Linked DNA regions of Homo sapiens: region 1 is linked to region 2. Evidence: fine-mapped expression QTL. A gene starts in region 2. The other region holds a variant in brackets. All regions are shown on one strand. Distances are between the middles of the regions. Region 1 holds the start of ZNF552 (zinc finger protein 552). Region 2 holds the start of ZNF154 (zinc finger protein 154).

What was found. PIP is the estimated chance that this variant, and not a neighbour inherited with it, causes the effect.
Region 1: its variant is fine-mapped to the expression of ZNF154 in whole blood (INTERVAL, PIP above 0.99).

The regions. Positions count from the first base shown.
Region 1 is chr19:57,810,494-57,815,864 of GRCh38, reverse strand. ZNF552 (zinc finger protein 552) reads left to right here and starts at 952. Exons shown (of 3, transcript NM_024762.3): 1 at 952-1,154; 2 at 2,445-2,571. The coding sequence starts at 1,122. RefSeq lists enhancers at 628-677, 3,685-4,336. The variant C/T (reference allele first, on the strand shown) is at 2,523.
Region 2 is chr19:57,707,230-57,712,600 of GRCh38, reverse strand. It overlaps ZNF154 (zinc finger protein 154), which reads left to right and starts at 3,397. Exons shown (of 3, transcript NM_001085384.3): 1 at 3,397-3,662. The coding sequence starts at 3,630. RefSeq lists enhancers at 3,217-3,276, 3,297-3,426, 3,170-3,809.

The sequences.
Region 1 (5,371 bases), 100 kb before region 2:
CGGGAGTGCTCTCAGGTTCTGCGTCCCTCAAGCTGGCCAGAGTCCCCTGTAGGGATGCTCCACAGGGCAGGCCTAAGCTGCCTAAGGGGCTGCCTCGACTATCTGTTAATCACCTGGCTTCCCAGTCAGGGAACCAAGAAATGTAGCAGGACAAGCCGCAGGGCTGTATTCAGCCTGGAGCTTTGGCAAGACTCACATCTCCAACTACCAAGCTCCCCAAGTGAGGAATTCCTGTCCCTTTTAAGGGCTTACAACTCTAAGGGGGTCCACATGAGAGGTTTGTGATCGATTGAGCAAGCAGGGGGTACACGACTGGGGGCTGCATGCAGTGGTAATCAGAACGGAACAGAACAGGACAGGGATTTTCACAATGCTTTTCCATACAATGTCTGGAATCCATAGATAACATAACCGGTTTGGTCAGGGGTCGATCTTTAACCAGGCCCAGGGTTGGCACCTGGCTGTCTGCCTGTGGATTTCATTTCTGCCTTTTAGTTTTTACTTGTTTCTTTGGAGGCAGAAATTGGGCATAAAACAATATGAGAGGTGGTCTCCTCCCTTAACAGCACAAACGCTTAATTAACATTTCTTTTTCTTTTGAGACAGGTTCTGTCGCCCAGGCTGGAGTGCAGTGGTGCAGTCATAGCTCAGTGCAGCCTGGACCACCTGGGCTCAAGCAGTCCTGACACCTCAGCCTCTCAAAATTTGGGATTACAGGCGCGCGCCACCGTGCGGGTCAGGAGGCTTCCCTGAGGGCCCCGGAGGTGGAGCTGGGCTTTTCCTTCCGAAGCGCCCCTGGGAATCTCTCTCTTTACGGCCTTGGAACCTGGGAAACTACATTACCCAGAAAGCTCTGCGTCAAATGACAGCACGGCAGAGCCAGTGAGAGTTCACATTGAAGGCGTTTCCGTGTGCGCAAGTAAGGTAGAGGCGGGACTCCCGGCGCCCTTTAGTAGCGACCATTTCCATTGGCGTTAGGGAGTCCTTGGAGCGCTGTGTTGGGACCGTGGTGGTGACTGGATCCAGGAGGTCGAGAGTCGTTCTTCTCTTTGCACAGACGTGACTCTGCAGCTCTTTAACGGCGCCCGCTGCTCTCAACCCAGCTTACCCCACGTGGTCCCATGGCGGCGGCCGCGCTAAGGTTCCCCGTTCAGGTAATTGTGGCGCCTTCCGTGCTCTCCGGTCACCTCCTAGTCACACAAGTCCTAAAGCAGCGAGGGAGCGGCACCTGTTTACGGCTCTGCAACCCGGACCCGGCGTCGGGACACTGAGGCGCTCTCGGGAGGGATCCCTGTTTCAGACACCCGTGGGATGCGGTGGGGAGAGCGACAGGTACAGGGAGGGGCGCGGGCAATGGCCTGGAGATGGACGGATCCGGGAGGATGGAACCTGGGGTCCACAGGCGCCTGTAGGGAACAACCTGTGAGGCGGAACTCCTCCTGGAAAAGCAAGGAGGCTGGGGGCTGTGAAATCATTGCGAGGACACTAGAAATAGGAGAATTTCCAAGAAAGAAGGGACTGGATCAAAGTCCAGGCTTTTAAAGTTTCCTAAAGGCCAAATAAATAACAGAGTAGAGAGGGGATGACGTTGGGGCCCTTTGAGATTGAATCCTTGTAGATCATATAGGTGGTAGAGATGACACTTTGTGCTGAGACACGCAGGTTAGACAATAGTCCAAGGTCACCTGGCTCCGTGGACACAAAAGCGTTCAGGGAGGCCTGAGCTTACCAGATCCTATCAGGGACACAGTCCTGTAAAGTCAGCCTCTTCCCTCAGGCCTTTATGGCTGTAGAAGCATTTAAGGAACGCATACAAGAAAGTGGAGGGTGGGGCCGGGTGCAGTGGCTCACTCCTGTAATCCCAGCACTTTGGGAGGCCTAGGCGGGTTGGTCCGGAGGTAGAGACCAGCCTGACCAACCATGGAGAAACCCTGTCTCTACTAAAAATACAAAATTAGCCAGGCGTGGTGGCGCATGCCTGTAATCCCAGCTACTTGGGAAACTGAGGCAGCAGACTCGCTTGAACCCGGGAGGCGGAGGTTGCGTGAGCCGAGATCGCGCCATTGCACTCCACCCTGGGTGACAGAGCGAGACTCCGTATCAAAAAAAAAAAAAAAAAAAAAAAAAAAAGAATGAGGTGCGTTCAGAGAGGGTATCTCTGCTGTGCTGAAGGTGCCACATTGGGCTTTCCATGACCTCGGCCATACTAGGGGAAGTGCCTGTCAGGAGGGGGTGGACTCTTATATCACAGCCACCGCACAGATACCTATTTGTTCAACTAACTATTGTTGTTGGTGGCTGTACCCCATGACCAGTGGGCCTAGTTTCTCCTATGTTTGAGGACCTTGAGAGGAGGATGTGCGAGAGTAGATGTGTGGGAGAGATGGATTGTGATACCTCAGCATAGGGGTGGTTTGTGGTTTCATCTGTCAACATCATAACAGGGCACAGTGACTTTTGAAGACGTGGCTGTGAAATTTACCCAGGAGGAATGGAATCTCCTTAGTGAGGCTCAGAGATGC[C/T]TGTACCGTGATGTGACGCTGGAGAACCTGGCACTTATGTCCTCCCTGGGTAAGTTGCCCACACTCACCCCTGTGACCTGAGCTAGTCTCTGTCTTTCCCCCTCTTTTTCTATTGGCAAGACTTTCTCATGTCAGGAGCATGGACACAGCTTCCTACTTCAGTTCTTGGTTGGTAGGACTGAGGTATGCATACTGCCCTCTCCATTCTTGGAGCAGCCCCAACACCTGCTATTGAGCTCCCAGGGAAGAATTCAGAGTCAGAAGTCTTACAGGCAACTTAATGCAGGCTACCTTGTTTGTCCTGTGGATGTTTGTGTGATTTCATCCAGATTTCAGGTTCGGGATCTAATTCATTCCTCTACCTGTTATTTCTTCATGCCTCCCTGTGCCAGGAATTGTCTTCATTGACATTGTCACTGCCTACATAGACTATAGACTGTTCTTGTAATACCGTCCTTAGAAATTCTCTTCATAGGTCTGGTGCAGTGGCTCATGCCTATAATTTCTGCACTCAGGGAGGCCAAGGTAGGTGGATTACTTGAGGCCAGGAGTTCGAGAACAGCCTGGCCGACATGGTGAAACCCCATCTCTACTGAAAATATAAAAATTAGCCAGGTGTGGTGGCACACGCTTTTAATCCTGGCTACTTGGGAGGCTAAGGTGGGAGGATAGCTTGAACCCAGGAGGCAGGGGTTGCAGTGAGCTGAGATTGTGCCACTGCGCTCCAGCCTGAGCAACAGAGCAAGACTCCGTCTCAAAAAACAGAAATTCTTTTTGTAATATTGTTTCCTGTCTGCTGTCATGTGCTGAGTTGTTCTAAGCCAGTGTTGGCTGTTTCCTTGTTCTGTCTTTCCCTTTGTTCTTACATCATGTATGTCTCATGTACTTGGTTATCTTGGTGGTGGGATCATCTTCTGTGGTCAGAAGATGCAAATGAATCTGGCCTCAGCATTATGGGTTCTGAGTCCCTGAAAAATAGCATCCTAGGACAGTGGTGCATGATGTCAAGAGTTTTATTCAAATCATGACAGAAACCTCTTCTATTTCAGTAGTATTTTTGGGGCCAGACAAGTAAGCACACATGATTTCTGTATCGTCTTTTCTCCTTCATTCTTGTTTTTGGTTTTGTTTGTTTGTTTTTTGAGAAAGGGTCTTGTTCTGTTGCCCAGGCTGGAGTGCAGTAGCTTGATCTCTGCTCACTGCAACCTCTGCCTCCTGGGCTGAAGCACTTCTCCTGCTTCAGCCTCCTGAGAAGCTGGGAATACAGGTGCATGCCATTATGCCCAGCTAATTTTTTTTTTTTTTTTTTTTTTTGAGACAGAGTCTCACTTTGTTGCCCAGGCTGGAGTGTAGTGGTGCGATCTTGGCTCACTGCAACCTCCACCTCCCAGGTTCAAGCAATTCTTCTGCCTCAGCCTCCCAAGTAGCTGGGACTACAGGCGTGCACCACCACGCCTGGCTATGTTTTGTATTTTTAGTAGAGATGGGGTTTCACCATATTGGCCAGGCTGGTCTCAAACTCCTGACTTCATGATCCGCCTGCCTTTGCCTCCCACAGTGCTGGGATTACAGGCATGATCCACTGCACCTGGCCTTCTCCATTGTTTTTTTTTTTTTTTTTTTTTTTGAGATGGAGTTTCGCTCTTGTTGTCCAGGCTGGAGCGCAATGGTGCGATCTGGCTCACCGCAACCTCTGTCTCCCAGGCCCAAGCAATTCTGCCCTCAGCCTCCTGAGTAGCTGGGATTACAGGCATGTGCCACCATGCCCGGCTAATGAAGGGTGGCCTGCCTCTCCACACCTGTGGGTGTTTCTCGTCAGGTGGAATGAGAGACTTGAGAAAAGAAAGAGACACAGATCCAAAATATAGAGAAAGAAAAGTGGGCTGGGTGCGGTGGCTCATGCTTGTAATCCCAGAACTTTGGGAGGCCGAGGCAGGCGGATCACGAGGTCAGGAGATTGAGACCACGGTGAAACCCTGTCTCTACTAAAAATACAAAAAAATTAGCCAGGCGTGGTGGCGGGCGCCTGTAGTCCCAGCTACTCGGAGAGGCTGAGGCAGGAGAATGGCGTGAACCCGGCAGGCGGAGCTTGCAGTGAGCCGCGATTGTGCCACCGCACTCCAGCCTGAGCAACAGAGCGAGACTCCGTCTCAATAAAGAATAAAAAATAAAAAAAAAAAAGAAAAGTGGGCCCAGGGGACTGGCGCTCAGCATACGGAGGAACCCTGCCTTCCCCCTGCCGCCACCAGTCTCCGAGTTCCTTCAGTATTTACTGATCATTATCTCTACCATGTGGCAGGTCAATAGGGTAATAGTGGGGAGAGGTTCAGCAGGAAAACATGTGAACAAATGTCTCTGCATCATAAACAAGGTAAAGAAAAAAGTGCTGTGCTTTTGATGTGCATATACATAAACATCTCAATGCCTTAAAGAGCAGTATTGCCTCCAGCATGTCTCACCTCCAGCCCTAAGGCGGTTTTCTCCTATCTCAGTATATGGAATATACAATTGGGTTTTAACACCCAGACATTCCATTGCCCAGGGATGAGCGGGAGACAGATGCCCTCCTCTTATCTCAACTGCAAAGAGGCCTTCCTCTTTTACTAATCCTCAGCACAGCCCCTTTACTGGCGTCGGGCTGTCAGGTCTTTCCCTTCCCATGAGGCCATATCTCAGGCTATCACATGGGGAGAAACCTTGGGCAATACCTGGCTTTCCTAGGCAGTGTTTTGTGTCCCTGGGTCCTTGAGAGTAGGGAGTAGTGATGACTTTTAACAAGCATGCTGCCTTGAAGCACTTGTTTAACAAAGCACGTCCTGCATAGCCCAAAATCCATTTAACCTTGAGTT
Region 2 (5,371 bases):
CAAATAATGCACACAAAGTATTTTGACAGCTGCCCTTTTTGCTTGTTCTGTTCTATAAATAGTGAAAATGATGTAGGGTAATATTAAGAAGGAGTGATTTGTAATTAAAAATACCCAGCCAACAAAGGGATGACTGTGGAGAACAGATAACACTTTATAGCTGGAATAGGACAATTTTATGCTTATCTCTGGGGACATCTGGATACCTAGTTTGACTTTTAGCAAAGAAAGGCAGTGGGAGTTACAATGTGCTGCTTAAACTCTGAAATTTTTTCGTGTCTTTACAGCTGGCTTTTACCTGGCATAAATGGCTAGGTTGGCTTGGGTCATGCAGCCAGAGGGACATAAAAGTCCCTATTGGAAATTTCTGTTATTAATTCTTCTGAAATCAAGCTCCATCCCATATATATTAGTGGCACAGTCCAGAGATGAAGCATGTCCACTTGTGAATAAGAATCCTGAGGGTCATGGGTCCAGATCTTTCTGAGCCCTGATGCCTGTTCTGTCTTTCTCTAGCTGTACTGTATGCTTTATATTTAAATAAAAGCCTTATGAGAGAGTGCTTTCAGTCCCATGAGTCATTTCAAATATCTGAATTTTTCAAGTCTTTGCAGATGTAAATATAGATGTAGAAATAAATTTGTATAGAAATGTGTGCAAGTGGCCGGGCACGGTGGCTCACGCCTGTAATCCCAGCACTTTGGGAAGCCGAGGCGGGCGGATCACGAGGTCAGGAGATCGAGACCATCCTGGCTAACACGGTGAAACTCTGTCTCTACTAAAAATATACAAAAAATTAGCCGGGCGTGGTGGCAGGCGCCCGTAGTCCCAGCTACTCAGGAGCCTGAGGCAGGAGAATGGCGTGAACCTCGGAGGCTGAGCTTGCAGTGAGCCGAGATCGTGCCACTGCACTCCAGCCTGGGCGACAGAGCAAGACTCTGTCTCAAAAAAAAAAAAAAAAATGTGTGCGTGCATGTGTATGTATCTGCTTTCTCTCCAAGAGGACCTAATAATCAATGATTTACCAGTAGAAAAGAGCACAGCTAATGCTTACTAATATTTACAAGCATTGTTATCTATTGAAGAAAACCAGAGCTCCTTGAAAAAGAGGCTGATTCTGGGGCTGGGATAGCAAGGGTACAACATGAGCCTGAAAATATTTTTGGATTAGAAAGTAATGAAATTATCAATAATATTGACATAAAAAAGCAGAGAGCACAGCTTTAATGAGTTCCCACTGTCCAAACATCTGGGAGAATCTGAACATTAAAATAAATGTTGGGGCCGGACGCAGTGGCTCACGCCTGTAATTCCAGCACCTCGAGAGGCCGAGGTGGGTGGATCATGAGGTCAGGAGTTCAAGACTAGCCTGGCCAAGATGGTGAAACCCTGTCTCTACTAAAAATACAAAAAATTAGCTAGGCATGGTGGTGGGCAACTGTAGTCCCAGCTACTCGGGAGGCTGAGGCAGGAGAATGGCGTGAACCTGGGAGGCGGAGCTTGCAGTGAGCCGAGATCGCGCCACTGCACTCCAACCTGGGTGACAGAGCAAGATTCCATCTCAAAAAAAAAAAAAAAAAAAAAAGTACATTACCTTGCTGAGAATTAAAAAGAAAATTTTATATTCGAGTGCTATTTATTTTGCGGCTCCAAAACTTTATAACAAAGCAGCAGAGATTTCTCGGCCAGGCTCGGTGGCTCATGCCTGTAATCCCAGCACTTTGGGAAGCCGAGATGCGTGGATCACCTGAGGTCAGTGGTTCGAGACCAGCCTGGCCAACATGGTGAAACCCCGTCTCTTCTAAAAATACAAAAATTAGCTGGGTGTCATGGCGTGCGCCTGTAGTCCCAGCTACTTGGGAGGCTGAGGCAAGATAATCGCTTGAACCCAGGAGGTGGAGAGGTTGCAGTGAAACAAGACTGCGTCATTGCACTCCAGCCTGGGCAATAAGAGTGAAACTCCATCTCAAAAAAAAAGAAAAAAAAAAAAGAAGAGATTTCTCACCTATATACCCTGAGTGTCTCTGCAGCCAGCAAAGCAGATGAAGGCCTGCTGGGTTGGAGCCCTAGGCCCTCCAATGCTGAAATGCCCTGTGAAGTCTCCATCCATCCAGGCACTCTAGTAACCTGCTTCTTCTGCCTGGAATTTATTCTAAAAATACCCACATGGCTCATTTCTCACTTCCTTCAAGTGCATTTCACCGGCTTTCTGATTAAGAAGTCCCACCTCTCCCCTTTGTCTCTTATCAAAGTAGCATTTCTTTCATTGTTTTTTGAGATTGATGTTAGACTTCTAGAAGGAATATATCTCAGATATCAAGTAAGAATTATGAAATGGATAAAAGCGTTGCTCAGTGAATTGGACACAGTTATTGACTGGACACAGTAATTGGACACAATAATTGACTATGCAGGCAAAAGATGTTTTCTGTTGGAATCAGACAGAATTCTACCTTTGTACTACTGTTTCAAGGTGATCTAACATTTCTCTTCTATCTTCTAGAAGCACTATCATGCCACTATCTGAAGTAGTTTTTCACCTGTCCCTGACCAAAAGTGCACAGACTGACTTCAATGCTTCGGAGTGCATACATTTGAAATGTAATATGATAGAGGCTGGGTACGGTGGCTTACGCCTGTAATCCCAGCACTTTGAGAGGCCGAGGCGGGCAGATCACCTGGGGCCAGGAATTTGGGACCACCATAGTGAAACCCTGTCTCTACTGAAAATACAAAAAATTAGCCTGGCGTGGTGGCGCGCGCCTATAGTCCCAGCTACTTGGAAGGTTGAGGCACGAGAATCGATTAACCCGGGAGGCGGAGGTTGCAGTGATCCCAGATGGCGCCGCTGCACTCCAGCCTGGGGGACAGAGGGAAACTTTGTCTTAAAAAAAAAAAAAAAGGAATAAACTTATATGGTAATGTTTATTAGCTTCCCTACTAGTGGATATATTTCGTGTCTGAATGGCTCTATGGAATGATGTACATATTTGGATTGGCAGCCTTAGGGAGCGTCTGATAATAATTTTAGCCTCTGGGAGCCTGCTGAACTTTATGAAGTTTGAAATAATATTCCCCAAACACTTGGGTGATCAGTTGCAGATGGCACCTCTAATATGCTGTCTGATTACGACCCATTTAAGAAAGGGCGAAGTCCCTCCACTGCCCTAGGACTTGGATAAGCCATTTCTCATCGCCCAGCGCCCTGGAGCTTCGCTTTTACTCCAAGAGGTTGGTGCAAAGGGTCCCCGGCACCCACCTCGGGATCTATGAAAACTACATTACCTAGAATGCTCTGCGTTGAACGCCACGCTACTAAGCCAGTAAGAGCTCAGAAAACCGACTTTCCTTGAGAGTCACAAAAAGAAAGGACGGGACTTTTGGGGGGGCCTCTTCGTGGCGGCCATTTTAGCTTCTCTGAGGTGTGTTCACCGGATCAGAGATAGCAGAGCGCCGAGTTGGGGCCACGAAGGCGTGAGGGGAGTCGTCGTCCCTCCTGCACGAAAGCGTCTAAGCCTTGGCGACGCCGCCCTGGGGGACCCACGTCAGGCCTGGGATAGGGACCGCTGTCCCCGGGTCCCTACCAATGTCGCCCGTCGCTCCCGGCCCAGCTCTACCCGCAGAGTCTGATGGCAGCGGCCACTCTGAGGACGCCAACTCAGGTGAGTGCGGCGTCTTCCCGTCCTCACACACCTTCCCCCACCCACGTTCTAAAGCCATCAGTGAGGGGCGCCTGCTCGAGTCCCCGCTGCCCAGGGTCGGGGACACTGAGGCGTTCGTGGGTGGGGCCCTTTTTTTGACACTGCGTGTGACGAGGTGTGGGAGAGCGTGACAGGCGGAGGAACCGGCGCGTGCAAAGGTTGAGGCGCGACTGAGCCAGGAGAATTCGGAAAGCTGTTTTCTGCAGGGAACGAAGAATATGAGGCGGAGTTACTCCTAGGGTTGTACTGTCATTGTGAGGATGCTAGAAGCCACGGAGAGTTCTGAACAAAGGAGGGACGCCATTTATGTTAGTTTTTTTTTCTTTGAGACGGAGTTTCGCTCTTATCGCCCAGGCTGGAGTGCAATGACGCGATCTCGGGTCACTGCAACCTCCGACTCCCGGGTTCAAGCGATTCTCCTGCCTCAGCCTCCCCAGCAGCTGGGATTACAAGCCTGCAGCTGGGATTACAACGTCCGGCTAATTTTTTGTATTTTTAGTAGAGACGGGATTTCACCATTTTGGCCAGACTGGTCTGGAACTCCTGACAAGTGATCCTCCTGCCTCGGCCTCCCAAAGTGCTGGGATTACAGGCGTGAGCCACCGTGCCCGCCCTATGTTAGGGTTTAAAAACTTTTCCAAAGACTGTTCACAGGAAGAGCAGCGATGGGGCGATGAGGACATTGAGATAGTGGGAGGCTACATCTTTTTTTCATTGCCCTACAGTTGGCAAGAGGTGACAGCACTGAGACCAGAAAGTAAAACAGCCAGCCTGAGTTCAGGGCCAGGCAGGGCTACAGGGAGGCTTGAGCTCATCTAGCCTCACCAGGGATGCATTCCTCTTTCCCTGGTTCTCCCAGTTGTAGAAGGGCGTATGGAACTCACATAGGGAAGTGGAGAGTGTTCGGTCCCTCAGTAGCCTCTACCCCCATGTTCTTGGGATTGTGGTTTCCTAGTATTCTTAAGTGCTGTTACCCCAATCCTGGGTCTGGTGCCCTGGAGAAATTCCAAGCCCAGGGCTCTTAAGTCCATGCCAGAGGTTACAGGGGTTATACTGAGGTGTTCCCATTTTTGTCAGCCAGTGGAAACTTGTGAAAGGTTATCTCTGGCACTGGTATCAGGAGGCGCAAGTGCTTAGTAAAACTAAGCTGAGATTTTTGAGGAAACCATAGATCTGTTTCCTTTTAGCTGGGAACAAAGAGCAGGGGGAAGGAGTCAGGACTGCAGTGGCTGCCTGAGAAGTTGGGTACCTATTCTGGAGGTAATGAGAGATTTGGGTTACAAGAGGGAGGTGATCTTACCAAAGTCCTAACAGGGTCCATCCCGTTAGCGTGGAGAGCAGACTGTGGGGTTGAGGGAAGAGGAAAGAAGATCAGAGTGGAAGCTACAGCCAGTCCAGGGTAATGGACCAGAGTCATTGATTAGGAGATGTGTTGCATTCTGGATGCAAATTTTTAAAGGGAGCAACTAAATTTTCTGATGTAGACAGCGAGGGAGTGAAACAGGATTCAGCGATGACCCCATGGTTCTTCAACTGAGATGGAGAAGTTGGTATTAACAGTAATATTCACTGGAGACAACAGGAGCTTTATTTGGTCATGTAAGAGTTTGAGATGTTTCAGAGACATTAAGTAGGCATTAAGTAGGTGGCTGAACACCCAGGTCTGGAAA